Regions from separate parts of the Homo sapiens genome. Here region 1 is linked to region 2. Evidence: fine-mapped QTL for protein levels in blood plasma. A gene starts in region 2. The other region holds a variant in brackets. All regions are shown on one strand. Distances are from middle to middle. Region 1 overlaps SYN2 (synapsin II). Region 2 holds the start of TIMP4 (TIMP metallopeptidase inhibitor 4).

Evidence for each region. A credible set is the group of variants that fine-mapping cannot tell apart. PIP is the chance, under the fine-mapping model, that this variant and not a neighbour inherited with it causes the effect. Sun 2018 read protein levels with aptamers (SomaScan).
Region 1: its variant is the best candidate, but not a certain one, in a credible set for the plasma level of the TIMP4 protein (Sun 2018, PIP 0.90).

The regions. Positions count from the first base shown.
Region 1 is chr3:12,054,813-12,057,730 of GRCh38, forward strand. All of the region lies in intron 1 of SYN2 (synapsin II), which reads left to right. Among named protein-coding and RNA genes, the nearest start is that of SYN2, 52 kb to the left of the region's middle. The variant G/T (reference allele first, on the strand shown) is at 1,357.
Region 2 is chr3:12,157,438-12,160,355 of GRCh38, forward strand. It overlaps TIMP4 (TIMP metallopeptidase inhibitor 4), which reads right to left and starts at 1,475. Exons shown (of 5, transcript NM_003256.4): 1 at 1,265-1,475; 2 at 1-45. The coding sequence starts at 1,403. All of the region lies in intron 5 of SYN2 (synapsin II), which reads left to right.

The sequences.
Region 1 (2,918 bases), 100 kb before region 2:
AATCTTCTGAGAAATTAGATATTCAAAAATGAAATTATTAACCCATACATTTGATAGTTTAGTAGAATATAGAATTCTGGGTCAAAAATAATTTTTCTTCAAAATTTAGAAAAGTACTGCTTTTGTTTTCTAGCATCCTTTATTAGTGTTGATAAATTTAATATTGATTGGTCAAGAAGACAGAAAGTGAACAGTATAGGAGATCTGAATGCCAAAATTAAAAAGCTTGATACTTGACCTTTTGGACATATAGATTTTTATATTTAACAATTTAAGAACACACAGTTTCTCAAATATTCATGGAACATTCATAAAAATTAATATGAATAAAGCAGAGAACACATCAACACATTTCAAAAAGATATAGAATGATCTTTGACTATAATGAAATTAGAAGTTAATATAAAAAGATGAAAATCTTAAAAATTCCCCATGTATTTTGAAAATTTGAAAACACCACTAAATAATTAATGTAAATTAAAAATACCTAGAAGGTAATGACAATGAAAACACTACATAACGATATTTAAGAGATGCAGCAAAGGCAGTATTTTGAAGAAAACTTTTATTTTAAATATATTAGACAAGAAAGCTTTAAAAATGAATGAGCTCCATTTTGTGAAGTTATCAAATGAAGAGAATAAACTTAAAGGAAAAAAGAAATATGAAAAATAATGGATTTCCTTGCATACAGGAAAGATCTGGGATTTTGTGATTGTGTTGATTCTGTGGTTCAATTTTTGGAGAAATTATATATTTGCAGTTATGAATTTTTAGAACATGAACATGGTATATCCCACCAACTGTTTGAGGCTTTAAAAACTCTCAAATTATGCTTTGTGGTTTTTAAAGGCAGAAGTCTTTTACATATTTAGTTGCCTTTCTCTCTGGGTATTTGGTGGTTCTTTTGATGCTATTATAAATGGTATTACTCTTTGAATTTCATTTTCTATTTATTGGCTGTTGGCACATGGGAATAAAATGAATTTTTGCATAAAAATGATAAAATTAGAGTATTACCGTTTTGCAACTCCCATTGAATTAATGCATCTAGGTATTGAACATCAACAGCTGTTAATATCACAGAAAGGCAGACTTTATGAGCTCCTGATAAAAGGAATCTAACAGGAGTCTGATCAAGCCTCTGCGTCCAGCTGCCAATTTGTGGGAAACACAAAGAATGGAGAAAGACGATCTTCCTGGTGAGAGTGTAATCAGCAAAACTGCTACTATGGGAAATTCTACATATGGATCAAGATGCTCCAGGCTCTTGAACAGATCAACTCTAAGGAAAATAAAGGGATGCACAGGGAAACCTGTGGATTAAAAGAGATTTGGAAGACAAAGTTGTGTTTT[G/T]TTTTTTTTTTTTTAAATAGGCAACTGTAAACTGTAGTGTTTAAGAATATACACTTGAATACAAGCATAAGGAAGTAATTCCATAAAAGTCAAGAGAGTGGTTACCTTTGCGGGGAAGGAGGGGGTCAAGACTGGGACTGGGTATTGAAGTTGCTCCTGGGGTGGCTGTCAAAATTGGTTTATTAACCTGGATGGTGGATACATGAGTGTTTGCCTTATAACAACTCATTAAACTCATTAAGCAATACTCTTTTTTTTTAATTTTGATGTGGCTTTCTGTATCTTTGTTTTATTTTACAACATAAAGTTTAAAGAAAAAAATGTTTTCTGTTGTATGAACAAGAGCAAGAGGATTAGTGGGCAGAGAGGAGAAAAGAAGGGCACCTATATATTAAAAATATTTTTGCCTAAGGTATACTAGACTTTGTACTAGAGCATTTCACACCTGTTATCTTGACATTCAAAATGGATTATTCTTATTTGGCAGAGTCTCAGAAGTTAAATAATTTCCTCATGGTAATGAGTAGGGGGCAGGAGTTCAAGCCCAAATTTGATTGATTCCAAAGCAGACTTTCTACTTCCCTCATTTACTGATGTTGGCAAATAGAAGTGTGGGTGGTATACCAATGTCTCTCTAAACCTAGTGTCTATAGTATCTAGCCTTCAGTTAGTCACCCTCCTAAAAAGTTGTGTCCTTTGTGTATATTAAAAATTATATGGAAACATGTATATTCTCACCCTCTCAACTAATCTGTTATATAAAAGACTGGTTATATTACTTGTTCTAACAGAACAAAAATGATAATTCTAAGACAAGATATGAAAATATAGTGACATCTGGGCCAGGTGTGGTGGCTCACGCCTGTAATCCCAGCACCTTTGGGAGGCTGAGGCAAGCGGATCACTTGAGGTCAGGAGTTCAAGACCAACTTGGCCAACGTGGTGAAAACCCATCTCTACTAAAAATACAAAAATTAGCTGGGCGTGGTGGCATGCGCCTGTAATCCCAGCTATTCGGGAGGCTGAGGCAGGAGAATTGCTTGAACCCAGGAGGCAGAGGTTTCAGTGAGCCAAGATCGTGCCACTGCACTCCAACCTGGGCGACAAGGCAAGACTGTCTGTGTGTGTGTGTGTGTGTGTGTGTGTGTGTGTGTGTATACTTTTTGACATCTTTAAATCCCTTATTTTTAGGGGAATTGTTTTTCTAGTGAAACATGAACAAAGATATTTGAAATGAGTTTCAAATATAGTCCAGCAGCTGAGAAGTCCTAGAACAATCTTAAACATATAAAAATTAGGCTACAGGAAGGGATTTTATTTTCAGTCCTCTTATGTGATATGACTTTAGCCATGAACATTGTATAAATTTGGATTAGACATGCCTGTAGGATGACTAAGATTCAAACTTATTTCTTTGGTTACAGTTTGATTTTAGAAAGTTGGCTTTATATTTTGTAGTTTTGATTTTGATTATTGATTTCTCAGCATTTGATTCAGTCTGATAACTTTGGGCTCTTAATTTATGGATAACTGGTTTCCAATCTCTATAGCTTTCTGCTTTT
Region 2 (2,918 bases):
CACTGGCCGGAACTACCTTCTCACTGGAGATTTTGGCCCGAATCACTGCATAGGAAGAGAAAAGAGGGAACCTTCAGCAGCTGGTGGGGGCAATACACCTGAGGTCTGGATGATCCAGGGTCCATGAAGAAGTCTATAGGGCAGTTCTTGGTTTTGGTGTGGCTGGGTTGTGAGCAACGTGATGTGTGAGAAGGGGGACCTGGAAACACCTCCCCTGCAGTCACTGGAAGTTCCAAACCCCTCAGGCTTATTAGGTCCTATAACCGCTAAGCTGTTTCTGCCTTTTGAACCAGTTAGTCTGGAGAGCTCTAGTTCTCCATAGCCGTTTGTGCAGTGGGGCACAGGGTAGGAGTCAGAGTAGAGAAGGGAGGAGGAGCCCCTTCAGGGCAGTCGGTGTGAAGTTTATCTATTGCTGTGGTCAAGGCCTCTCATCCCGCCTACAGTTGATATTAGTAAATGTTTATTGAATTCATAAATGTTCTGACCCTGCACTGAGGTATTGCATCTCTTGCCATTTGAGCATTAATAACCAAAAACTGTTGATGATGTTCTTCCTCTGTGCCTGGCCTTGCACTAGGCACTAGGCCCATAGATGTGATTAAGACAGGGTCCCCATCCTGCCGAGCTCTTGATCTAGTGGAGTGCACACGTGTAAAGAACAACAGCACAGCATAGTAGGAGCGCTAAGACGGTTAGAGATGCTGAGGCGGCACCAAGGAGCCCGGGAGCCTGCAGAGAAGGGGAGAGACCTAAGTTAGCCCTTGAAGGATGAGTAGGAGTCTGCCAGGAATTTAAGGGTGTGAGGGAGGGCATTCCAGGCAGAGGGAAGAGAAAGGACAGAACGTGTGTGTTGCCATAGGGGCTTGGTGGCAACCTCAGTTATAGGCCTGGACAGACACGGGTAGTTACAATGCAAGCCCTCTCCCCTCCCCTTTCTGTCCCCAGTCTAGTAGTTCAGAATAATCATCAGATAGCTCCGGTGACACCTTGTGTAATGACACTCCATAATTGCAGTATGGCCGGAGTGAGGGAGGTCGCTATGGAAGTCCCTGATGAAATCTTCATTTCCTTATGAATCAGTCAGGTTCTGGGCTTGCAAGGTTGCTATGGCGCCTGGTCCTTCTCCACCCATCAGCCTCAGCAAGAGACAACCGGTAAGAATTTGAGCTCCTCCCTTTTCCTCTGGACTCCTGGTGTACTGCTGGCCAGATACTAATCCCCCACAACCACCCCCTGCTGTGGACCTCGCGGACCTCGGACTCACCAAGTGCCGAGTGGCAGATGTGCTGCTGAGGGTGCGCCGGGGCGCAGCTGCATGCCTCACCCAGCCCCGGGGGCCGCAGCAACGCCAGCAGCCGCAGCAACAGCACCCAGCTTGGCGCGGGCCGAGGGCTCCCAGGCATGACACTGCAGATCCGCGACTGAGCCTGTGAGGTCTGGGGGACTGGACGGCCCCAGCAGGGCTCCTTCCCAAGGCCGTTGTGCCCCTCGCCCCAGGCTTTATGAGGTGGCCCTAAGGGCCAATCCCGCCCCGACGGGCTCCGCCTTCCTTTGGCTCTAGGCCACCCGCGGAGGCAGGACCCGAGGCTCTTCCGACCTGCATACTCAGTAAGATGCAGAGGGAAGCCTGGAAGGAGGCCCTGACCTCTGTTTCCCTGCCTAAGTCATGAAGCGATCTGGAAGCAGAGGGGAAGCACTGGGAGAGGGGATGGTGTCAAGGGCAGAAAGACGGAAAGAGCCACAAAGACAAATGCATGAGGACAGAAAAACTGAGGGCTGTGATTCAGGCAGAAAGAACAAGAGTGAGGAGAGGCACAGACAGAAAGAGTGAGACAGGCAGAGTCCCAGAGAGGCAGACAGAATTACAACAGGCAAAAGAGACAGTGACAGAGAAGGACGGACCCCTTGCTGAGCTGCACGCTGGGAATGAGACGAGCTACTCAGGGCTTCTTTCAGCTGCAGGAAGTGCTTTCAATGCCCTATTTATGAGGCTCCAAAGCAACAGCAAACAGTAATAGAACAGGACAGAGAAAGTTGGGGTGTGTGTGTCTTGGCTCTGTTGCCTGGGGGGTGGGGAGAGATGTCAAAGAAGCAGCCAGTGCTTTAGAAACCCTTTCTCACTCCCAGAGCCTCAGACTCTCCAGATAGCTGGAGACAGCGCTCTTGGTGTACAAAACACAAAGTGTCCCATCACTTAGGGCAAACCTTGGACCTCAAAGCCCTCTCGAGGCCCTAGACTACATTGATTTTTATTGCATGTCCCTTCTCACTGGAGACTCTGTCATGTTCTAGAAGGTGGGACAGCTTAGAAAACAAAGAAGCAGGCTGGGCGTGGTGGCTCACGCCTGTAATCTCAGCACTTTGGGAAGCCAAGGCGGGTTGATCACCTGAGGTCAGGAGTTCGAGATCACCCTAGCCATCATGATGAAACTCCGTCCCTACTAAAAATACAAAAGTTAGCCGGGCGTGGTGGCCTACACCTGTAGTCCCAGGTACTCAGGAGGCTGAGGCAAGAGAATGGCTTGAACCCAGGAGGCGGAGGTTGAAGTGAGCTGAGACTGTGCCACTGCACTCCAGTCTGGGCGACAGAGTGAGACTCCGTCTCAAAAAAAAAAAAAAAAAAAAAAAAGTAAAAGAAAAAACAAAGAAGCAGGGGACTTGGGGGTGACTGTGACCAGAGCCTTGTCTGCTGTTTGGGCACAGTGTTGCAAGCCTCCAAATCCCAAATCTCCATGGGATTATTGCTGTGGGATGTTTCCACATGGTGCTGGACTGGATAGTGGGAGGCTGGGTTCCAATTCTGACTGTCACTGTAGCTTTGTGACTTTTGCCTCTCTGGGCCTCAGTTTTTTCTTCATAAAGTAGAGTTGAACTACGTGATTTCTAAAGCCCTTTGAAGTTCTTCTTCCCATCCTTGG